Linked DNA regions of Homo sapiens. The protein of the gene in region 1 interacts with the protein of each later gene in a biochemical or structural test. Each region holds a gene or a part of one and is shown on either strand. Other genes may lie near its edges. The genes, in order: MAPT, SYK, CAPN2, PRKCZ, PRKCG, PKN1 and SRPK1.

Region 1 (3,500 bases):
CTATCTTGATCCCTACTCAGTGTAACAATTTATCTGTACAACTGATTCCATCACCAGGATCTTTAGACCCCTCTGGTCATTCAGCCAATCACAAGCACTCATCCACAGGACACCGCCGATGATGCCATTTACTGAGCAGTTACTATGTGCTTGGCCCTAGTGAGTACCGGGTTAGCTTGTGTGAACCCCATGGCAACCCGTGAGACAGGTACCATCATACTCCAAGTTGTGGATGACAAAAAACTCTCCAAGCAGCTAAACAATATGGCTTAGGTCTCACAGTGAGCAGGGAGCTGGGATTTGTGCCCAGGAGGCCCGATCAGAGCCTACCTCCTTAACCATTAGGCCAAACTGCCTCCACATGCAGAACACTGCCCTGCACTGGGGACCTGGGGGAGGGTAACAGTGTCTGCCCTTGAGCTGCTCCCAAACCTTCCTTGAATAGCCTTGGCACAAAATGCATTTCTTGGGGACTCGCTGACATGGTGTTTGGATTTCTATCGGGTCCCTGATTGGGCTCAGCATGGAGCCTGATGAAATATGAAAAAAGCAAAGAAAATTAAGGGACTATACATGGAAGTTGTTCGAGTTTGTATTTTGCTGAAGCCCATTCTATCTGCATGCTTACAGAAAGTTTCCTAACTGGAGAACCCAGAAAGCTCAAAACCTGTCTCAAATTCCTCCTCACACTCAGTTGGGAGCCATCTGGGCAGGCAGGGAACCTGGCAGAGGTGGCAGGAGCATGGCACCTGGAGACAGGAAAGGAATTCTTGGACAGCAAACTCTTTGGCAAGGCAACAGGGGCGAGACAGAGGATTCTCAGGTAGCCCCAAGGTACCACAGTATAATGGAATACTTATTGCAAAGCCTGGGCCCCAGGAAGTGAGAAAAGCCTCCCAGGCCCATCTTTGCCAAAAGATTCTTACAAGAGGACTTGCCTATGCCCACCCAACTCAACCCACACCCACAATCTCAGAGCAGGCCTCATCAGTGGGCGCCAACGCTTTCACCTTGCCGAGGTACAGAACCTAAGCTGGGGATCTGATGTCCCTAAACCTCAGAGACTTGACCTTGGCCACACTGAATCTACGTCTTGATCCCCCAGTCTTGATTTCCAGCCTTCCCTGGGTCAATCAAACCAGCTGCCCCGTCATATGGCAGAGCAGTCCAGAAACCCTGGATTGGGGGAAGAGGTTTAAGGACCTTAGGAAGAGATATTTGCTCTTTGTTTTATAAACAGAGCACCAATGTAGAGTGAAATGCCTTGCTCTCTGTGTCGGGGCCAGATAAGAAATTGAGAGCTTTAACTCCACATCTCCCTAACCTTATTCTGGGTCATGCTCCGATTACAGACTCTTGTAAAAATTCATTTGTGAGACAGTGGTTTTGGAATCAATATTCTACTGGGTCAATGTTATAGATCATATCTGGGTTCCCAGACTAGTCCACAATGGCCAAGTAAACCCACATGTGGCTGAGAGGGGAGGGAACTAGTGTCAGGCAACCAGCTCCACCACCCACTGGCTCTGTGACCTTTAGCAAGTTACTAACCCTCTCTGTGCTTCAGTTTCCCCATCACGGAGATAATAACAGCACCTGCTACATAGCGGAAGTGTTGTGAGGATTAAATGAGATAATCTTAGCAAGCACTTAGAATAGGGCCTCCTAAAAGACACTCAATGAATGTAATTAAGATAGCAGTGCCAGTGTCAACCCCAGCAGTGGTGACATTGGGACTGGGTCATATTTTGATGTAGGAGACTGTCCTGTGCCTTCCTTGTAGGATGTTTAACAGCATTCCTGGCCTCTACCCACAAGATGTCAGTAGCACCCTCCCCGAGTTGTGAAAACAAAAACATCTCTCTAGACATCTCAGTGGCCCCCAGTTGAGAACCATGGTTTTACAGGAAAACAGCTGAGAGTCCCTGCTGGAACATGAGGACTCCTCTCCCTGCTGCAGCCCAGCTGGTGAGGCTGGGGTCTTCTCTTCCCGTCACCTGCTGAGGTGCCCCCCAAACGCCAGCTCCATGTCACTAGTGGAAGCACCTAACTCCTGGGCATGGCAAGTTAGGAGTGGCCAGGGGGGTGTTTCTGGGAGTGTGAGGGGGCTTTGGGGGTCTCTGAACACGGTGATGAGGAAAGTGGTGGTGGAGGAAAGAGCAGAGTCAAACGCAGTTTCCCACCTGCTTCCCACTGTATTTCCCCATTTATCCTTCATGGATAAAATCCATTTGGTATGGACCGAATACCTCTTGTATGTCTAGCACTGTATTAGGCCCCTACGGCTGTTTTTATTTGTTTTTGAGTGATTCTTTTTCAAGGAGGGAGTAAGGAAGATGCTAAATAAATACATCAATAGAAGGCAAGGTCCAGTTGGAAAATTATCACATGTCCAATTGGAAAAATAACACGTGTTCGTACATATAGCCACAGAGCTACTGAAACCACACACATAAATGCTGAGGGAAAGTGGAATAAAACAGTTTCTTTAAATTTTCAACAAATGGACTGTAACAACAGATGTTAAAAAGGCAGAAGGAAAACCACAATCTTATCCCATCTCCAGGCTGGCACCGACCTCCAAGGGCATGAGGGTCAAAGGGCACGTTTAATAGAAAGGCCACTTTTTCCAACCGGAATAAATCTAACCTTTCCTCAATCAAAGCGATTCTAAGTTTTCTAACAATTTATGGGCAGTATCCATTTCTTTTGTTCCTGTCGGAGGAGCAATGCCTGATATTAGAAACCACTTAAAAGTCACGCCCTTCCAGCAGGAACAGTCATGGACTGTCACTCATCCAAAACCCAGCAAAGCCAACAAGCCCCTTCCCCAAATCGTCCAAAGGTGAACCCAAGAGCCAAGCCAGGTTATTGCTATATAAACATCTGTTAGAGAAGCAAACTTGGCCAAGGAATGTATGAGCTTCAAGAGTCACTCCGGACCTGCGTAGCAGGGGTGGGGGCAGGGGATACACTTATCTGTTTATCCATTAATTTGTTTACGTAGAGGGAGGATTTGGAGATGCTTATACAGTAAATATAAGCAGCTTATACAGTAATTATAATACAATGCTTATACAGTAAATACAATGCTTATACAGTAAATATAAGCAGCCATCACAAAACACAAAATGACACCCCAGAATCAACCGCGGTAGGAAAGACATTTCCCTGTCTCCTGTAGGATGGGTCAGTTAAGGGGCCGAGGGGGATCAGATAGAACTCAAATTGGTCCTGCTGAGCCTGGAGCCTGAGCACGCAGAGGGGTGAGCTAGGCAGTCGCTGTCGGAGCCCCCATCATCCCTTCCAGCCTGGACCATTCTGAGACGGAGGTTTGGAGTTACAGGTGTGTGAGCGCCAGAGGGTGAGAGGGGTCACTCGCTCGGAATGTAAGAGCTCCCGCCTGCTGGGAATGGGGAGGAGTCGTCGATGGCCCCAGGATCCGTGCCCAGACATTTCCAGAGGCGCACCGGCTGGTTCAGCACCCCACCGTCATCCGC
Region 2 (3,500 bases), on another chromosome or scaffold:
GGCCACCGAGGAGCTTGCCTCATTTGCTGTGCTACGTTTGTACTTAGATTGTCTCTTTAGTCTCCATGGAAGGGAGGTGTTCTTACCCTGACTTTGTAGGTGAGAAACTGATTCTCAGGGTTAGTTCTGTGACCTGTGTGATACTGGAACAAGGATTTGAGGTGGTGCCTGGCTATCTGTGAGCCAGGCCTGACTACTCTGTTATACTGCTTTTCTTGCAATTCCAAGCATGCCAGGAAACTCAATCCCATTGAACACCAGGAGAATATGGCATTGAGTCCTGAAGAGCTATATGCTAACAAAGTTATTTGTCACCACTCGTGAGTTTTGTTGTTTAAGAAGAGGGAAGGAGTAGATTCACCCACTGCCTGCGTGAGGAGCATGGTTGTTTGTTGTGAAATGGGTCACTGTCTGTTATAGCTGATGAGATCATTATGACTTTCAGACATGTCAAGGATAAGAACATCATAGAACTGGTTCATCAGGTTTCCATGGGCATGAAGTACTTGGAGGAGAGCAATTTTGTGCACAGAGATCTGGCTGCAAGAAATGTGTTGCTAGTTACCCAACATTACGCCAAGATCAGTGATTTCGGACTTTCCAAAGCACTGCGTGCTGATGAAAACTACTACAAGGTAAGTACAACTTAGCTAATATTCAGAGCAGCAGGTGGTAAAAAATGCAAGATAAATGTACGTTTTCTTTATTTTATTATTGGTATGGTTTCAAAAAGCAGTTTTGCTACTGAAAAATAACTATGTAAGATATGTTCTTATAATCTTTGATTTTACTGTTTAAAAAATAAAAATAATATCACACCTTGAGATTTACTCAAAGTAGTATATTCTAAATTATGTTTCATGGAATGATCAGGAATCGAGGTATTAAGTGAAGATTTGTTTTGAAAAAAGAAGAATGGGATTCCTTCATTAAGTTAATTTGAAAAGTTTGCATTGGACAGCTTGATTCTTGCAGGATTTCCCCGAAGCCCTTTTCATGCTACTTAACATTACGAATCTCAGTAGAGGGTTTACTGCACTGCATTTCTCAAACCAGATTCATCCATGGCATCCTTTTCTGATAGGACATTTCATAACATGTGGTGGAACACTGTCCCACAGCATGGAGCTATTGGAGCTTGGAGCTCCAGTACTGCAGTTCAGAGCTCCAATATTGCAGCTTGGAGCTATTCCAAAATAACTTTCTAATGAACACCTACCTATACATGCAAAAGTTAGAAAGTGAAGATTTACCAAATAAACTCGTCATCTGTGTATGTCCACTACATATGTAGAAATTGTTCTATTGGCTTAACTGGTATCCAGAAGAGTTGAAGTGTCAAAAAATAGATGCAGTGCTGGAAAGAAGAGATCTAGATAGTTATGTGACTGAAGCTAAAAGAAATATGCCCCTTGGTTTGGTGAGGCAGAGATTATCAAGAATTAAGGGTGGACTTCCAGCAAAACATAAAGTAGAAACTAGTTCTGGGTGCAGGTTTGGACTTCCTAAAAAATAATTTCACAGTGACCAATCCCCTTGCTAATATAACTTGACCCCTCTCTGAACCCTCAAATGAACCAATAACAACTAAAAGAAGAAAAGATAAGAAAGCTCTATCTTCATATTAACTCATCTGTGGTGTATACCTAGGGTCTATGTTAACCAACTGGAAAACGTGATGGCACCAATCCCACTGAGTCAAAGAGGGTGCCGAAGGCAGGTTAACAACCCTGCTAGTCTCTGGTGAAGTCCACATGCTCAGAAATAGATGGCAGACCTTCAAAATCTACCTAGTGGGTGGCAGATAGGATCCTGTGTTTCATGCCCTGCAGTGGTCAGAGACCCCACCCTGAGTGACAATACCCACCCACTCACCTTTCCCTAAGAGGCAGTCCATGGACTGGTAGGTGATGGGGAATGGTGGACCTCGGCCAGCAAAGGGACTGCATGAAGGGTAAGCCACAAGAGCCAAGCTCCCAGGCAGGCAGGCAGACTCCACCATCTTGAGCACAAAGGCCAGGCGAGAGTACAGCAGGGGTCAGGCTGGCCCTCCTCACCCCATTCTTCATACAGTAGCTTCCCAGAAGGAAGCCCCTTCAGAGGTGAACCACTGTGAGAAAGGCATCAGCATGGGCCTGGATAGAAATAGCAGGGAAACAGAGCAAGGAAGACAGCAGCCTAGGATGACCAGCATGGGACATGCTGGAGAAAGAAGCCTGTTGTAATGCTGGATGTACCTCATCATGATCATTACAGAAAAGAAGACAGCCTGTCTGAAACAAGGACACAGAGGAGATAGAGAAAATGAAACATGAATGCTGGGCACCTTATCCACTGCTGTATAACAAATCACCCCAAACTTACTGCCAAAAACACCACCAGGTGTTGGTTTCCCTGCCGTCCTGCTGTGTGGGCAGGGCCAGGTAGGCAGGGTTCAGTGCGTCTGCTCACACAGGGGATTGCACAGTGGCCCGAGGGACAGGAGGACCGTTTCCACTCTGCTCACTCACACTACTCAGCCACTGAGCAGCTGGTTAGACACAGCCCATGCTGGAGACCTCTGCGGGGCTGTCAGCCAGCTCACCTGCACATGGCCTCTCCTTGGGGCCCTTGGGCTTCCCTTGGGCCCATGCTTCCCTTGGGCAGCATGGCAGCTGCGGGCTGAGAGCAGTTACCCAAGAGGCAGGAAGTGGGGGCTGCCAGGCCTATAAAACCAGGCCCAGAAACTACCTCAGGGTCACTTCCACCTGATCCTATTGGTCAGAGCAGCCAAGGCCACCAGCTTCAAAGGATGGGATAGATAGAACCACCCTTTTGAGGAGAAGTGTCAAAGAGTCAAAGAACATGGGGCCAATTCTAAAACTGCTGTAGATATTAAACAGCATACCATTAAAAAGTAAACTAAACTAAAAAGTAAACCAAAGATTGTCTTTGGACAATCAATGAAGAAAAAAAGCCACTAGGGAAATAAAAGCCATCTTGGAAGCAGCAAAAAGAGACAAAACTACCGAAAAGATAGGGTAGTGGAAGATTTCTGTATGAAAACAAAGCAAAGTGAAATGGAAAAGAATAAAAAGTGGGCCGGGCGTGGTGGCTCACGCCTGTAATCCCAGCACTTTGGGAGGCTGAGGTGGGTGGATTACCTGAGGTCAGGAGTTCGAGACCAGCCTGGCCAACATGGTGAAATCCCGTCTCTACTAAAAACACAAAAATTAGCCAGGCATGGTGGCAGGCACCTGTAATCCCAGCTACTCTGGTGGCTGAGGCAGGAGAATTGCTTGAGCCCGGGAGGTGGAGGTTGCAGTGAGCTGAGATCGTGCCACTGCACTCTAGCCTGGCCAACAGAGCAAGACTCTGTCTCAAAAAAAAAAAGGAATAAAAAGTGAAACAAGATCAAAGAAAAGTGCTAGCTGTGGAAGCAAACGAACGCTGGCACTCGGGAAACCATGCGTGACAGGGTAGATTTGTGCAGCATCACAACTGAAAAACACAGGTGTTCT
Region 3 (2,490 bases), on another chromosome or scaffold:
TCTCAAAAAATTTAAAATGAAATAAATAGTAGAGTCAACACAACTGTGACACGAAACATGCCACATGTTAAGTTCTGGAAATCCTAGCCTGTCATTCTTGCTGGATATCCTATTCTACCCCAGCCACCCACCCCCACTCCAGGGTCCACCTGGCCTGCCTGCTCAGTCCACTCCCTCCGCATCTCCTCCGAGAAGCATCTTCTTACCCACTGGCTTTTCCTGCCACTCCTAAGCCTTACCTTTTGCAGGTTCCTGGAGATCCTCGCTTCTCGTAGTCTTTGCAAGGATGAGCCATGTTCAGAAGCTCTCCGTTCAGTCTGCAGGGATTTCAACCTTGGCTGCAGATTCCATCACATGGGGAGCTTTGCCAAAGTGCTGGTGTCCTGTCTGTATCCCAGACCAGTTGAATCAATCTGATTTAAAGTTTCCGTATCACTACAACTTAGAACCAATGCTGAACACCATTGGTTGCAGGGATATCCACATCCCAAACTAACTTCTGATGTGATACTCTGAGGCAGAGATGTGAAAATGCTAATTTCTGTTGTGTGAATTTCACTTTTCATGTGTGCAATCAACCCTGTAATATGATTCATGGCCACTTAATGCAAATCACACAGACTACTGACCTGTTAAAAGCTAGACTCTAGAAATCAGGTAAGAAAAATATGAGTTAGTGCACTGATATTGTAGCCCTCAATCAGCTTTTCCAGTACAAGTTTTTTGGAACAATCTACAGGTACTTAAATAGCCTTTAATTTTAAAAGTGGTCACTGAGCTGACTTTTTTTTTTCCTTCCTCACAGTGGCTCTGTTTCTCAGTACTTTGAAGTTATAACTAATCTGCCTGAAGACTTCTCATGATGGAAAATCAGCCAAGGACTAAGCTTCCATAGAAATACACTTTGTATCTGGACCTCAAAATTATGGGAACATTTACTTAAACGGATGATCATAGCTGAAAATAATGATACTGTCAATTTGAGATAGCAGAAGTTTCACACATCAAAGTAAAAGATTTGCATATCATTATACTAAATGCAAATGAGTCGCTTAACCCTTGACAAGGTCAAAGAAAGCTTTAAATCTGTAAATAGTATACACTTTTTACTTTTACACACTTTCCTGTTCATAGCAATATTAAATCAGGAAAAAAAAATGCAGGGAGGTATTTAACAGCTGAGCAAAAACATTGAGTCGCTCTCAAAGGACACGAGGCCCTTGGCAGGGAATATTTAAAGCAACTTCAAGTTTAAAATGCAGCTGTTGATTCTACCAAACAACAGTCCAAGATTACCATTTCCCATGAGCCAACTGGGAAACATGGTATATCATGAAGTAATCTTGTCAAGGCATCTGGAGAGTCCAGGAGAGAAGACTCACCTCTGTCGCTTGGGTTAAACAAGAGACAGGTTTTGTAGAATATTGATTGGTAATAGTAAATCGTTCTCCTTACAATCAAGTTCTTGACCCTATTCGGCCTTATACATCTGGTCTTACAAAGACCAAAGGGATCCTGCGCTTGATCAACTGAACCAGTATGCCAAAACCAGGCATCCAATTTGTAAACCAATTATGATAAAGGACAAAATAAGCTGTTTGCCACCTCAAAACTTTATGAACTTCACCACCACTAGTGTCTGTCCATGGAGTTAGAGGGGACATCACTTAGAAGTTCTTATAGAAAGGACACAAGTTTGTTTCCTGGCTTTACCTTGGGAAAATGCTAGCAACATTATAGAAATTTTGCCTTGTTGCCTTATCTTCTTCCAAATGTACTGTTAAATAAAAATAAAGGGTTACCCCATGCAATCACACCATGCCATGTTTTCCTTCCTGGAGGGCAGCCCCACAGGACGGTTTATGAGCACACAATTATAGCTTGTTTCTACTTTAACAAGGTATGCTGCCTCTGTAAATTCATGTATTCAAAGGAAAAGACACCTTGCCTATAATTAAAATGTGGAACTATAAAATTTTTTAAAATCCAATTCAGAAACTTTGATAATCTGACCATAACATAAGGGAAGCTCTAATTTCTACTGCTTGCTGATCTGCTGTTAGGCAGCACAGAGACGTATGTGCCTCTCAGGAAGTTCCCTGCTCGACCTTGGCCAGCTCCTCCTGGGGTAGGTACAAGCAAGGGAGCTGAGAAAACATGCAGATGAAGTCACTGGTCTGGTGCTTGTGGTTCTTGATGAATCATTTCCTCAAGATGACTTGAGATGATAGGCAAATGCCATCCTAATATTTCCTGAACAAGGTGAGACAATGGATTTCCCAAACTCGGCTCAAATGAGTTGAAGTTCTCTTGCTTGCTGAGTGGATTTTGAGGGCAAAGGGGAGGCTGGTGGCCATGAGAGTGCAGGAGTCCCAACCTCCTCGCATCGGTGATTTCTCTGTCCAGCTGCACAGGTGGCAGGAAAGATGTGGGAGATGTTTGGACTGACTCAAGATTGGAGGTGGGCAAGGGAAGGGTAGCTGAAGGATC
Region 4 (3,500 bases), on another chromosome or scaffold:
CAAGCAGACCTTGGTGACCCTGGGTTCTTCAAGAGGGGCCGTGGTGCCGTCCTAGCTCTGGGCTGCAGCGTGAGACTCAGGCGGCAGTCTTGGATAGGACCCATCTTCCTGAGCCCCCACAAGCCCCCGGCACACTCTGCTCATTGGGGCATGAGGCTCAGGCAGCAGGCTCAGGTAGGACGTGGTACGCTCTGCTCAGTGGGTCGGAGGTAAGGTTCATTCATACCCCAGTCTTGAACCAGCTCTTAAGGACTGTGGAGGTGAAAGCCAGGTCTGACCTAGTAGCATTGGGCACGCTGAGGCTCCGAACATCTGGAGCCTCTCCCTGGCATCCCCCCTGGGAAGCCATGCCCAGCCTGTGATGAGGGCGGCACCTTCCCTCCGCCATCCCCGAGTGCTTGGACTTGAAGCATCCAGGCCTTTGGGGGCCTTATTGACTTTTGCTTATTGAAGGCTGCCTCTGGCATTTCCGTGTGGCCCCCTGCATCCCACTGAACCACGGGGGTGAGGCCTGGACTGAACATTCAACTCCCTGGGCCCTGCTGCAGCGTGCAGTGGGTGTGTCTGGGGAGGGTGGCTTGTCTGCATCTTGCTGTGGCATGGGAGGAAAGGCGCCTGTGGCAGTGACGTGCCCTCTCCTCTGTTACGGGATAAAGACAGAGTCTGGATCAGGGTGTCACCCCAGGATCACCAGCCACAGGGATGGGGGACCACGCAGGCTGGTGCATGCGTTGGCACAGTCCTTCCAGAGGTCCTTCAGCTGCATCTGCCAAAAAGCCTGTAATGCCCTTTGACCTCATAGGTCCACTTTAGCGTAAGCAAATGAGACCGGCCCCAGAAATGTGGTCAGCTAGAGGCGGAGGGAGGCCAGAGCCTGCCACCCAGCTGACCACCAGTACTGGTGGCTCCATTATGACATATCTGCAGGCGGAACCCAGAGGCCCTTAGAATGGCCCCCTGATGCTTGGTTACTGACAGGATGCAGCTTTGGGACAGGGGAGATGACCAAGCATTGTGCAAAATATCCCGTTGTATAAAGCACTTGGTGGAAAGGTCATGGCCTGCAGTACCGAGTGGCCACCTCCGTCTGCAGAATCATAGGTAATGTTTATGTTCTTTATCTAATTCAGTAAAATAGCATAACAATTAGATTTTTATATACTATATTACAGTATACCCATTGTAATGTGTAAATATGTAAATCATAAATAGTCTTGAAGTGGCCAGGTGCAGAGGCTCACACCTGTAATCCCAACACTTTGGGAGGCCAAGGTGGGAAGATCACTTGAGGCCAGGAGTTCAAGACCAGCCTGAGCAATATGGTGAGACCCCATCTCTACAAAAAAAATACAAAAATTAGCCAGGCATGGTGGTGCGCACCTGTAGTGCCCGCTGCTCTGGAAGCTGAGGCGGGAGGATTGCTCGAGCTCAGGAGGTTGAAGCTGCAGTGAGCCGTGATCGCGCCACTGCTCTCCAGCCTGGATGATGACAGACTGTGACCCTGTCTGTAAAAAAAAGTTCTTAATTTTAAAAAGTCACAAAGTGTTTACAGAAGCTACATTGTAACACCTGCTCTAGCACTTGGTCATGCTGCCATCTCTGTGTCTCTCCGGCAGGATTCTGTCATGCCTTCCCAAGAGCCTCCAGTAGACGACAAGAACGAGGACGCCGACCTTCCTTCCGAGGAGACAGATGGAAGTAGGCGCTGCTTTCTTCCGGCCGGGTAGAGCCTGGGCATCACCTCACCCTGCTCACCTCTGCCTTCTAGCCACGAGTCCTTTCTCAGTCCCATCTGCTCTGCAGGGGTCATTGTCTTCAAGCCTGGCCACCCTTCCCTGGGGCTGGGGATGAGGCTCTCCAGGGCCTCCTCTCAATCCCCGGCAGAGATGAGCAGGGTGAGCTGGCCCTCCCTGGAGGCTGCTGGGCAGGGATGCCTCCGTGAAGTGCTGTTGTGGTTGCCCAGGGGTGCAGAGCCTCTTCCTCTAACCAGCTCCGGGAGTTCTCGAAGGCACTTAGTGCAGCAGCCACCATGGCCGGGCACCTCCCACAATCTGGCTGCTGCACAGAGCTGAGCCCTATCTGGGGAAAGCCTGGCGAGGTGGCTGCTGCACACACAGCGTGGCAGTGGCATGGTCCTTGGATTTTTGTGAGGTTTTGTTTGTTGTGGGGAAGGACTTGTTTTATTGCTAAGAAGCATTCAGAGAGAGATCTCAAACACCAGTTGGACTTACAGCCCAGGTTTGAGCCTCCACACCTGCACCTCTGCACGGGGGTGTGAGAGCCTCACTTTCACTTGATGCATGTGAGTTCTGTCTCATTGGGAGACCACAGAACATAAAGCACTTATGAGACCACAGAACATAAAGCACTTAGTTCACACAGTGCCTCACGCAAAAGAGATGCCTCACAAACAACTGCCTGCCCACCTGCTCCTCCACCCACCTATCCTCTATACAGATATTCATCCGTACATCATCCATTCACCCACCTAGCCAACCAACCAGCCCTCATCCAGCCAACCAGCCATCCTCCACCCGCCCATTCTCCATCCATCCACCACCTATCCATCTATCCACGATCCATCCATCTCGTCATCCAGCCAGCCAGCCAGCCATCCTCCACCCACCCATCCTCCAGCTATCTTCCATTCGTTCATCTGTTGTCCACTGACCTCTCCATCTATCCATGTATCTATTGTCCACTGACCTCTCCATCTATCCATCTATTGTCCACTGACCTCTCCGTCTATCCGTCTATTGTCCACTGACCTCTCCATCCAACCGTCTATTGTCCACTGACCTCTCCATCTATCCATCCATCTTTTGTCCACTGACGTCTCCATCTATCCATCTGTCTGTTGTCCACTGACCTCTCCACCCATCTATCTGTTGTCCACTGACCTCTCCATCTTTCCATCTGTTGTCCACTGACCTCTCCATCTATCCATCTATTGTCCACTGACCTCTCTATCTATCCATCTATTGTTCACTGACCTCTCCTTCCATCTATCTGTTGTCCACTGACCTCTCCATCTATCCATCTATCTTGTCCACTGACGTCTCCATCTATCCACACATCTGTTGTCCACTGACGTCTCCATCTGTTCATCTATCTGTTGTCCACTGACCTCTCCACCCATCTGTCTGTTGTCCACTGACCTCTCCATCTTTCCGTCTATTGTCCACTGACCTTTCCATCTATCCAGCTATTGTCCACTGACCTCTCCATCTATCCATCCATCTATTGTCCACTGACGTCTCCATCTGTCCATCTATCTGTTGTCCACTGACCTGTCCACCCATCTGTCTGTTGTCCACTGACCTCTCCATCTATCCATCCACTGTCCACTGACCTCTCCATCTATCCATCCATTGTCCACTGACCTCTCCATCTATCCATCCATCTATTGTCCACTGACGTCTCCATCTGTCCATCTATCTGTTGTCCACTGACCTGTCCACCCATCTGTCTGTAGTCCACTGACCTCTCCATCTTTCCGT
Region 5 (3,500 bases), on another chromosome or scaffold:
CCAGCCTGGGCAACATAGTGAGGACCTATCTTCACTAAAAGTGCAAAAATTAGCCAGGTGTGGTGGTGCACACCTGTAGCCCACCTACTTGGGAGGCTGAGGTAGAAGAATTACCTGAGCCTGGGAAGTTGAGGCTGAGTGAGCCGTGATCACACTACTGTGCTCCAGCCTGGGCAACAGAGTGAGACCCTGTCAAAAAAAAAAAAAAAAAAAAAAAAAACGAAACAAAAAATCACCTGATGAAATAAATATTCAGAGTGGGAAGAGCTTGTGCTGAAAGCACTTAACGTGGGTAGCGCTCCCAGGGGGTGAGGCCAGAGGGGTCCTAGGCTTCCTAAAGAACGCATCATGATTCCCTGCCTTCCACCTCCCCTAGATCATTGCCTACCAGCCCTATGGGAAGTCTGTCGATTGGTGGTCCTTTGGAGTTCTGCTGTATGAGATGTTGGCAGGACAGGTAAGGGAAGGTGGGGAGAAGCTGGCTTGGCTAAAAGAGACAGAGAGGGGCACCTGGATCTCAGGAGGAGCCAGTTAGAAAGGAGCCCAGAAGGTTGTGCTCGAATAGCGCTGTCCATGGTTCTGAAGTGTTGTCTTAATGTAGACCAGGTGTTTTGTTTTGTTTTGTTTTGTTTGTTCTGTTACCATGGATTCTTTCTCCCTAGATGGTAAAGTAGCAGTCTGGTTAAGCCTATGGATCCCTTCTCAGAAGAATGTTTTTCAATGCACAAAATAGAATAATACATACGCAGAAAACCAAGGTTCAAATCCTCACTTTGCCACTTACTGGCTGTGTCAGCTTAGACAATTACATACATTCTAAATCAGCTTGATTGGATTCCTGGACTGCTGAGTGTACTACAACTAAAAAAATTGGTTACCACACTCTTGATCATCTTCTTAGCTGGCTATGGTAGTGGGCACCTATAGTCCCAGCTACTGGGGAGGCTGAGGCAGGAGGGTCACATGAGCCCAAGAACTCAAGGTTACACTGAACTATGAGTATGCCACTGTGTTCCAGCACAGGCGACAGAGCAAGACCCCATCTCAAAAGAACAAACAAACAAAAGAAATCAATCATTTTGAAAGATAGTCACCAAAACTTTTAAAATTTAATTGAATCTAACAACCAACTAAATTCAATGTATACAGTTGTCTAAATATTTAAAATTGGAAAATGGACATATGTGCAATTTCTTATTAATTCATTAAGTAGTAAGTTCTAATGGTAGTAAAGTAAAAAGGAGCTCTAACAGTAATTTTGATGTAGCAATGACTAATAATTTGGAATATCTGCAACTCTCATGTGATGAGAAAATACCTGTGATTACTATTGATAATGAAGCCACAAGCACTGCTGCTGCCTGCATTCATAACTGAAGGGAATGCTAAATTTTAGTTAGAAGTTAAAAAAAAATTTGGCCGGACATGGTGGCTCACGCCTGTAATCCAAGCACTTTGGGAGGCCGAAGTGGGCAGATCACTTGAGGTCAGGAGTTTGAGACCAGCCTGGCCAATATGATGAAACCCCATCTCTAAATCTTTGCCTTGGTATCATTTTTTGTAACCTCAGAAGACTGTGAACTACTCATCCAACCAGGAGAATGCTTTTAGGGTGTTTCCTGCAGTTTTTCCTCTCTTCTATTTAACTGACATGTTGCATAATTAACAGCCTGCTGATTTACATAGCAGATAAAGAGAGGCAGAATAGTACAGAGATGCACAGATCTGAGGCATCCGAGATAGGAAATGAGAGAACCTGAGAAGGAGAGAGATCAAGCTTTGGTGGTTTGGTCTGATCTCTCCTGAGGGTGTGGTCAGGTGTGCATGTGGGGCGTGTGATGGGTCAGGCATGTTCCCGGTGGGGTGAGGAGGGTGTGGAAGGTTTGGGGAAAGGCAGTTGGGCATGTCCCTGACTCTCTATCCCCTCCACTTTGATAGCCTCCCTTCGATGGGGAGGACGAGGAGGAGCTGTTTCAGGCCATCATGGAACAAACTGTCACCTACCCCAAGTCGCTTTCCCGGGAAGCCGTGGCCATCTGCAAGGGGGTGAGAGCCCCCTGACTCCCAGCTTCTCCAGGCTCACAACCACACACCCCATTGCTGTCTCTGTGCCTATTAGAAAAATGCTCCCATTCCTGAAGTCACTTTACTTCCATCTGTTGGAAAAGTTGATATGATGCATAGGTTTTGTTAGAACAATGATTTCCAGCCCTGTTGCCACGAGGCCTGGAGATGGCCTCTGTCTCATCCTTCTCTGTGACTCCCACTCCCCAGCTCCCTGCTTGCAGGAAGTGCTGAAAGTCCAGGGTGTCTGTCTGTCTAGAACTGGGTGGGTCAGGTAAACCCAACTTCTGCAGCTTTTCTTCCTGTGTGAACTTGGGTGAGTCACCAAAACTTTGTGAGCTTAACTCTCTTCAGGGGTTATGGAGTTGACACAGAAGAAAGCACCTGGCCCATAGCAGATTTTCAGCCCATGTCAGCACCTTCTGCGTCTAGCTGCTCTCTCTGCATCTCCCTGACAGTCTCTCTGGTTTCTGTCTCATGCCTCCCCTCCATCTGCATACGATGGGGCTCTCTGTGTTTCTTCCTTTTCTCTGTGTCTCCTTCTGCATCTCTGTCTACACTTTTGGGCCTTTGTCCAACCCCCCTACCCCCCATCTCTGTCCCCTCCTGTGTCCACTCTCATACACACACGCTACATCTCACCCTCCTCTCCTGCTGGCTTTCTGTCCTCCCTTTTCTCTGGGTCTCTGTCCCCATATTTGGTCTTTATTCCTCCCTCTGGGTGTGTGTTTCCTGGGTCTCTATCCTTCTCTCTTTCTGAATCTCTGTCCCCCTGGGTCTCCTCTGTCTCCTCCCTTCTCTGAGTTTCTGCCTTCTTACCTGGGGTCTCTGTACCACCCTCTGAATTTCTATTTCCCCTTTTCTCTGGGTCTGCAACCTCTCTTCCCCCATTCCCTCCCTCTTCCCCTTCATCTCCTCTACCCTTCCCTCCCTCCCCCTACCGACCTCCCTCTGTCCTTCACTCTCCCCTTCCCTCCCTCCCCCTACCCTTCCCTCTCCCCGTCCCTCTCTCCCCTTCCCTCTCTCCCCCTACCCCTTTTCCCTCTCCTCTTCTCCATCTCCCTCATGATTTGTTCTGTTTCTCTGTGTGTCCCTGGGTCTCTGGGTATGAATTTCATCTGCTATCATTTTCATGTATCCTCTCCTTCTTCCTGTCTCTCTCTCTCTCTCTCTCACTCACTCTCACCCTCTGTCTCTCTCTCTCTCTGTCCCTCTTCCTCTCTCTCTCCTCTCTGTCTCTCTCTGTCTCGCTCTCTGTCTGTCTCCCTCCTCCTCCTCCTCCCTCCTCCTCCTCCTCCTCCTCCTCCTCCTCCTCCTCCTCCTCCTTCTTCTTCTTCTTCTTCTTCTTCTTCTTCTTCTTTTCTTCTCTCTCTCTCTCCTTTCTTTTCCCTTCCTCCCTCCATTTGCCTGTTTCCCCTGGCTGTTCTTATCTCTCC
Region 6 (3,500 bases), on another chromosome or scaffold:
CCACGCTCACAGGGAGTCCTGACCTGGGGGCTGTGGAGCTGCGCATCGAAGAGCTGCGGCACCACTTCCGAGTGGAGCACGCGGTGGCCGAGGGTGCCAAGAACGTACTGCGCCTGCTCAGCGCTGCCAAGGCCCCGGACCGCAAGGCAGTCAGCGAGGTGAGGGGCGGAGCTTTCATTAGAGGCGGGGCTTCAGCAAGGGGCGGTGCTTCAGCAAGCGGCGGGGAGTTCACCAGGAACACCCACGGTGAGGGGTGGAGCCTCAAAGGGGGTGGGACCTTCATAAGGGGTGGGGCCTCAGCCAGGGTAGACTACTGTGAGGGGCAGGGCATCAGGCAGGAACAGTGCAACTGTGAGGGGCGGGGCCTCAGCGAGGGGGCATGGTTTCAGGCAGGAATGGCCCTCGGTGAGGGGAGGGGCCTCTCCAAGGGGCGGGGCCTGGTTTTCCCAGAGGTGGGACCAAGTTGGTTTGAGGTTTAGCCCTCTAGGGAGGAGCTCAGTGTGAGACTCAGCCTGGGGGTGGGGCCTAGGCCTGCACTTGGGAAGGGGCAAGCCTGGTCCCGCCCCCAGCCCCCACACTTCCCACCACAGGCCCAGGAGAAATTAACAGAATCCAACCAGAAGCTGGGGCTGCTGCGGGAGGCTCTGGAGCGGAGACTTGGGGAGCTGCCCGCCGACCACCCCAAGGGGCGGCTGCTGCGAGAAGAGCTCGCTGCGGCCTCCTCCGCTGCCTTCAGCACCCGCCTGGCCGGGCCCTTTCCCGCCACGCACTACAGCACCCTGTGCAAGCCCGCGCCGCTCACAGGTGGGTCTGAGACCCTACCCCACCCCTGCAGCCCTGGGCCTCCGACTCCTCTCATTTCCCCATTCCTGTGACCCCCGACTTCAATCTCCGCTCTCCCCAACCCTGGACTCCCATTCCACCACTGTCTCCTCCCCTCCTTTGCCCTCTGATTCTGGGCTCTTGCCCACCCCCCCCACACCTCAGTTTCTCCATCTCTCTTCACCTGGCCCAGTATTTTTCTCCCAGCCCTTGTTCCCCAGCCCCACCTCGGCCTCACAACGCTCAGCCATGAGCCTCCTACCCGCCTGCTGCAGACCAGCCAGCCCCACCTTCCACAGACCCCTCAGCCATCTACCCCTCCAGACCAGCCCCACCGTAGACCCCTAGCCCATCTTAGACCTCAGATTGTCCACCGAGTCCTCCCCTAGAACCCCTAGTCCTACCCTGTTCCTGCTTGCCTGGGCCTACGGCCTGTACCCTGAGCCTACGGCCTGTACCCTGAGCCTCTCTTCTGCCCCTAAACTCCCGCATCTGAGCCCCTCCTGGAAGGACTGCTTCTCTCATATTCTCCTATCCCAGCACGGACATCCCGGCCTCATGCCCCATGCTCCATTCTGGTTGTCCCTCACTGGCTCCCACTTGTACCATGGCTGCGTCTGGATGTGTCCCCTCCCCGCTGTGGTCCCCTCCGCTCAGCCTGCCCCAGAAGTGGCCCCCTGCTGAGCTTTCCCCTCCTGCAGGGACCCTGGAGGTACGAGTGGTGGGCTGCAGAGACCTCCCAGAGACCATCCCGTGGAACCCTACCCCCTCAATGGGGGGACCTGGGACCCCAGACAGCCGCCCCCCCTTCCTGAGCCGCCCAGCCCGGGGCCTTTACAGCCGAAGCGGAAGCCTCAGTGGCCGGAGCAGCCTCAAAGCAGAAGCCGAGAACACCAGTGAGTGGGCATCGTGGGCCCTGAGAAACGAGGTGGCATTGGGGACCTGGAATGCCCCATATTTGTAAACCTTTAAAAAATAAGCCAGGGGTCGGGTGTGGTGGCTCACACATGTAATCCCAGCACTTTGGGAAGCCAAGGTGGACGGATCACTTGAGGTCAGGAATTTGAGACCAGCCTGGCCAACATGGTGAAACACTGTCTCTACTTAAAAATACAACTTAGCTGGGCATGGTGGTGCACACCTGTAATCCCAGCTGTTTGGGAGGCTTAGGCAGGAGAATTACTTGAACCCGGGAGGTGGAAATTGCAGTGAGCCATGATCACGCCATTGCCCTCCAGCCTGGGTGACAGAGTGAGACTTTGCCTCAAAAGAGAACGAAAACAACAACAAAAACAAAAAAACAGGCCAGGTGCAGCAGCTCATGCCTGTAATCCCAGCACTTTGGGAGGCTGAGACAGGAGGATCACTTGAGGCCAGGAGTTTGAGACCAGCCTGGGCAACATAGCAAGACCCTGTCTCTACAAAAAATAAAATGTAAAAATTAGCCAGATGTGGTGGCCCACACCTGTAGTCCTAGCTGTTCTAGAGGTGGGAGGATCACTTGAGCCCAGTGAGCTATCATTGAGCCATTTCACTCTAGCCTAGATGACAGAGAGACCCTGTCTCTAAATTAAAAAAAAAGAAAAAAAACTTCAAGTTTATTTAGATTAAAAAAAAGGCTGGGCGTGGTGGCTCACGCCTGTAATCCCAGCACTTGGGGAGGCCGAGGCGGGTGGATCACGAGGTCAGGAGTTCAAGACCAGCCTGGCCAGCATGGTGAAACCCCATCTCTACAAAAAATACAAAAAAATTAGCCAGGCGTGGCGGCGCGTGCCTGTAATCCCAGCTACTCGGGAGGCTGAGGCAGAGAATTGCTTGAACCCAGGAGGCGGAGGTTGCAGTGAGCCGCGATTGTGCCACCGTACTCCAGCCTGTGCAACAGAGCAAGACTCCATCTCAAAATAATAATAATAATAATAAATAAATAAAACAAATTTAAAAAGAAAGGAAAACCAAACAAGAAACCAATATATCATATTCATTAGGATGACTAATACTATTTTAAAAACCCAACAAAACAAACAGAAAATAAGTGTTGGTGAGGATGTGGAGAGAAATCAGAACCTTTGTGCACTGTTGGTGGGAATGTAAAATGGTGCAGCCCTATGGAAAATATATTGGCATGGCCGGGTGCAGTGGCTCACACCTGTAATCCCAGCACTTTGGGAGGCTGAGGGGGCCAGATCACCTGAGGTCAGGAGTTCGAGACCAGCCTGGCTATCATGGCAAAACCCCGTCTCTACTAAAAATACAAAAATTAGCTGGGCATGGTGGTGTGTGTCTGTAATCCCAGCTACTCAGAAGGCTGAGGCAGGAGAATCGCTTGAACCCAGGAGGCAGAAGTTGCAGTGAGCTTAGATCGAGCCACTGCACTCCAGCCTGGGCAACAGAGCGAGACTCTGTCTGAAAGAAAGAGAGAGAGAGGGAGGGAGGGAGGGAGGAAGGAATATTGGCAGTTCCTGAAACAAGTAAAAACAGAGTAAGCAGTCCAGGCGCAATGGCTCACACCTGTAATTCCACCACTTTGGGAGGTCAAGGTAGGTGGATCACCTGAGGTCAGAAGTTCAAGACCAGCCTGGCCATCATGGTGAAACCCCATTTCTACTAAAAATACAAAAGTTAACCGGGCTTGGTGGTGGTGCACGCCTGTAGTCCCAGCTACTCTGGAGGCTGAGGCA
Region 7 (3,500 bases), on another chromosome or scaffold:
AGCGATCTGGAGCTCCTCCGCCTTCCGGATCTGCAGGTGTATTTTCTTTTAGGGACTTCGCTATCATTAGAAGTTAAAAAGAAATTTCTATTTTTATTCTGTTACCAGGGAATTAAACACCACTCAATCCATTTCAACAATAACATATTTAAGAAACATTATCAGCTTCCAAGAGACATTCTCACTGTTACTTCCATAGGGGAAGGAGAAAACTAGATATTGTGTCTTTGTGTTGTATGTTATAAAAGCTGGTGTGTATTGTTTAAAAATATTTTTTCTTATGAGTTGATGATTTTTGAAGTGTTTACCTCTAACTGTGATCACACATGCTCATTTATAGGACTGGTAGTCTGTAGAGGGACAAGATAACATTGCTATTAATAGTTTAGGTTTAAACACTGGAGTAGACAGACTTGGTTTGAATTTGGGCTTCATCCTAGACTGAGAAACCTTAGCTGAGTTATTTTACTTTATTTTCCCTCAACTGCGAATTATTGGGATTAAATGGTAAAGCAGTTAGTAGTGTGCCACACAATATTATATACCAAATAAATTGCGGGACCAGGCACAGTGGCTCATGCCTGTAACGCAACACTTTGGGAGGTTGAGGTGGGTGGATGATTTGGGCCCAGAAGTTTGAGACCAGCCTAGGCAACACAGTAAGACCCTGTCTCTACAAAAATTAAAAAAATTAGCCAGGCATAGTGATGCGTGCCTGTAGTCCATTTACTCAGGAGGCTGGGGCAGGATGATTGCTTGAGCCTAGGAAGTCAAGGCTGCCACGAGTTGTGATAGTACCACTGCACTCGAGCATAGGCAACAAAGTGAGACCCTGTCTAAGACATAAAATTAAATAAATAAATAAAGGCTGCTTTATGATTTTTTTTCTTTTGAGATACAGATTTTAGTTTTAGTAGTGTGTCATTTTTTAGGAACTTGCTTGATCCTCAAGTTGAGTTATTAGTTATACACTTCTTTAAAAAGGAAGACTAAAGAAGGGGGAAATGGGGAGTTGGTTGTTAAATGGATGTAGTTTCTGTTTTACAAGATGAAAACATTCTACAGATCCTGTTATACAACAGTGTGAATAGTGTTAAAACCACTGAATGTACACTTATCTAGAGTATAAATTTTTATTATGTGTTTTTTGTTAACCACAGTTATTATACTAATATTTTAAAAAGAGGAAGACTGAAGATCCTACCTTCCAGCTAAGCTACACTGTTATCCATGACATGCTGTAGAGCAAATTACTATAGCTCTTGATGTCACCTAGACTCCCCTTTTAAAACTGACAGATTCTGGGTAGCATTTGAGGTGAAGAGGTTGTTGCTTGTCCCATTCTATTTTAAGCAGTGCATGGGAATGGAAAATAGGTGATTTTTAGCAACTTTAGTTTACCTGGGGAGGAAGAATTTTATTTATCCCTTTTTTTTAAGTTTGGCAATTTCTATTCATTATTTTCTTTAAAAATGGTAATAATATAGCTTCTACTTAAGTCATTTAAAAACAATAGTTTTCTCTGCAATGTAGACTACATAAGAAAGACTTTTCATTCTGGTAGAGTGTTTTATCTGAGCCTTAGTTTATATTGCCTGATGAATGCCAGAATTCTTACTTGGTTTTCTTTTCTTTTCAGTCAGTACTGCTCCCCAGCCTAAACCAGTAAGTATAAGGTGTTTTTATATTTAATTTTGATCTATGGACTATGGGCATGGGTTCTTCTGTTGTGGATGGTAACAGTTTGTTTCAAGTTTGAGAACCAAAAGGAAAAAAAATTCCTGCGCTTCTATAATTTTCTCCAGTAAATTCCCATGCACCTTCATCACATTTGTACTGGTGAGGCCTCTAAAAAATTCGAGTTTGTCTGAATGTAAACCAACCCCACGGACTGCTCAGAAGACCACACTTTGTTATTTATTCTGTTTTTATTTGGGTTTATAAGAGTATCCCGCATCTTTTAATTTAATGAAAGACTTAAGTGCTATGTTAGGGAAAGATTTGTGAAATTTAATTAGGAAGTAATTAAAGTTAACAACTATCTCCAACTGGGGGTAATTAATTAGCCACCTGAAGGCTTTATCTGTTTGTAATCTCCGCCCAGGCTGACAAAATGTCAAAGAATAAGAAGAAGAAATTGAAGAAGAAGCAGAAGCGCCAGGCAGAATTACTAGAGAAGCGAATGCAGGAAATTGAGGAAATGGAGAAAGAGTCGGGCCCTGGGCAAAAAAGACCAAACAAGCAAGAAGAATCAGAGAGTCCTGTTGAAAGACCCTTGAAAGAGAACCCACCTAATAAAATGACCCAAGAAAAACTTGGTATAAATAGAACATCACGAAAATTACTGTACAACACACTTTAACGTTAATTTATCATTGCTATATAATACAGTGGTTTCATACATACAACACATCTCTGGGGGTATCTTTATAAGAATATGGATCTTGTCATAAATGTTAGGCAGGTAATATTTAAATGTAATTTGTAACTTTTCTCAGGAAATGGAACATAGATTTCATTTAACAATTGGGTAAAAGTAAGATCTTGGCCCTTCCGGAAATAGGTTTTAGATGTTTAGTCATGTTTTTATGTCACTCAGTATAAGTTCTAGAAAATGTTTTAATCTTGTGAGAAATGTTTCTGTTCTTTCACTCACACACATATGCATATATCTTTTTTTGTTCGTTTGTTCCTTAGAAGAGTCAAGTACCATTGGCCAGGATCAAACGCTTATGGAACGTGATACAGAGGGTGGTGCAGCAGAAATTAATTGCAATGGAGTGATTGAAGTCATTAATTATACTCAGAACAGTAATAATGAAACATTGAGACATAAAGAGGATCTACATAATGCTAATGACTGTGATGTCCAAAATTTGAATCAGGAATCTAGTTTCCTAAGCTCCCAAAATGGAGACAGCAGCACATCTCAAGAAACAGACTCTTGTACACCTATAACATCTGAGGTGTCAGACACCATGGTGTGCCAGTCTTCCTCAACTGTAGGTCAGTCATTCAGTGAACAACACATTAGCCAACTTCAAGAAAGCATTCGGGCAGAGATACCCTGTGAAGATGAACAAGAGCAAGAACATAACGGACCACTGGACAACAAAGGTACCTATGCAGCTATACTTCCTCAACACTCCTTCCCTGCACAACACATTCACAGATTTCTAGACTAAAAGTATGATTGTTTTTGTAACTATAGCTTTACAACAGGTGTGTCTAAGTTACGTTTAAATTGTAATCTGTAGCTAACTTTATCCATCATGTACTGAGTACACAGCACTTCATTTGTTGCTGTGAGGGCAGAGGTTTTTAATTCTGGAAACTCAAGGCGTTGCTGTGCTCTTTTTGTCTCAGAAAATGTAAGTTGTCACTTGGGTATTGCTGACTGTATTACTCTTACCTTGGAGAGCTTTATTACTCATTGAGTATTTCTCTGTTCATTGAACAGTCTTATTGATGATGCCTGTTGTCTGTAGGAAAATCCACGG

The links.
Region 2: of the proteins of MAPT (region 1) and SYK, one has a biochemical effect on the other in vitro, tested with the Homo sapiens proteins (one study listed by BioGRID).
Region 3: of the proteins of MAPT (region 1) and CAPN2, one has a biochemical effect on the other in vitro, tested with the Homo sapiens proteins (one study listed by BioGRID).
Region 4: of the proteins of MAPT (region 1) and PRKCZ, one has a biochemical effect on the other in vitro, tested with the Homo sapiens proteins (one study listed by BioGRID).
Region 5: of the proteins of MAPT (region 1) and PRKCG, one has a biochemical effect on the other in vitro, tested with the Homo sapiens proteins (one study listed by BioGRID).
Region 6: of the proteins of MAPT (region 1) and PKN1, one has a biochemical effect on the other in vitro, tested with the Homo sapiens proteins (one study listed by BioGRID).
Region 7: the proteins of MAPT (region 1) and SRPK1 form a complex in vitro, tested with the Homo sapiens proteins (one study listed by BioGRID).

What each region holds. Positions count from the first base shown.
Region 1 is NC_000017.11:45,897,554-45,901,053, reverse strand, and holds part of MAPT (microtubule-associated protein tau), read right to left. Parts: exon of another isoform or gene 2,256-3,500; intron 1-2,255. UniProt on the Homo sapiens protein: Promotes microtubule assembly and stability, and might be involved in the establishment and maintenance of neuronal polarity.
Region 2 is NC_000009.12:90,878,319-90,881,818, forward strand, and holds part of SYK (tyrosine-protein kinase SYK), read left to right. Parts: intron 1-445; coding exon 446-635; intron 636-3,500. UniProt on the Homo sapiens protein: Non-receptor tyrosine kinase which mediates signal transduction downstream of a variety of transmembrane receptors including classical immunoreceptors like the B-cell receptor (BCR).
Region 3 is NC_000001.11:223,774,029-223,776,518, forward strand, and holds the end of CAPN2 (calpain-2 catalytic subunit), read left to right. Parts: intron 1-239; exon of another isoform or gene 240-805; coding exon 806-829; 3' UTR 830-1,990; downstream 1,991-2,490. UniProt on the Homo sapiens protein: Calcium-regulated non-lysosomal thiol-protease which catalyzes limited proteolysis of substrates involved in cytoskeletal remodeling and signal transduction. Proteolytically cleaves MYOC at 'Arg-226'.
Region 4 is NC_000001.11:2,144,411-2,147,910, forward strand, and holds part of PRKCZ (protein kinase C zeta type), read left to right. Parts: intron 1-976; exon of another isoform or gene 977-1,101; intron 1,102-1,616; coding exon 1,617-1,698; exon of another isoform or gene 1,699-1,895; intron 1,896-3,500. UniProt on the Homo sapiens protein: Calcium- and diacylglycerol-independent serine/threonine-protein kinase that functions in phosphatidylinositol 3-kinase (PI3K) pathway and mitogen-activated protein (MAP) kinase cascade, and is involved in NF-kappa-B activation, mitogenic signaling, cell proliferation, cell polarity, inflammatory response and maintenance of long-term potentiation (LTP).
Region 5 is NC_000019.10:53,902,697-53,906,196, forward strand, and holds part of PRKCG (protein kinase C gamma type), read left to right. Parts: intron 1-376; coding exon 377-457; intron 458-1,938; coding exon 1,939-2,046; intron 2,047-3,500. UniProt on the Homo sapiens protein: Calcium-activated, phospholipid- and diacylglycerol (DAG)-dependent serine/threonine-protein kinase that plays diverse roles in neuronal cells and eye tissues, such as regulation of the neuronal receptors GRIA4/GLUR4 and GRIN1/NMDAR1, modulation of receptors and neuronal functions related to sensitivity to opiates, pain and alcohol, mediation of synaptic function and cell survival after ischemia, and inhibition of gap junction activity after oxidative stress.
Region 6 is NC_000019.10:14,450,306-14,453,805, forward strand, and holds part of PKN1 (serine/threonine-protein kinase N1), read left to right. Parts: intron 1-12; coding exon 13-158; intron 159-590; coding exon 591-804; intron 805-1,523; coding exon 1,524-1,718; intron 1,719-3,500. UniProt on the Homo sapiens protein: PKC-related serine/threonine-protein kinase involved in various processes such as regulation of the intermediate filaments of the actin cytoskeleton, cell migration, tumor cell invasion and transcription regulation.
Region 7 is NC_000006.12:35,869,099-35,872,598, reverse strand, and holds part of SRPK1 (SRSF protein kinase 1), read left to right. Parts: coding exon 1-36; intron 37-1,639; coding exon 1,640-1,665; intron 1,666-2,104; coding exon 2,105-2,318; intron 2,319-2,697; coding exon 2,698-3,117; intron 3,118-3,488; coding exon 3,489-3,500. UniProt on the Homo sapiens protein: Serine/arginine-rich protein-specific kinase which specifically phosphorylates its substrates at serine residues located in regions rich in arginine/serine dipeptides, known as RS domains and is involved in the phosphorylation of SR splicing factors and the regulation of splicing.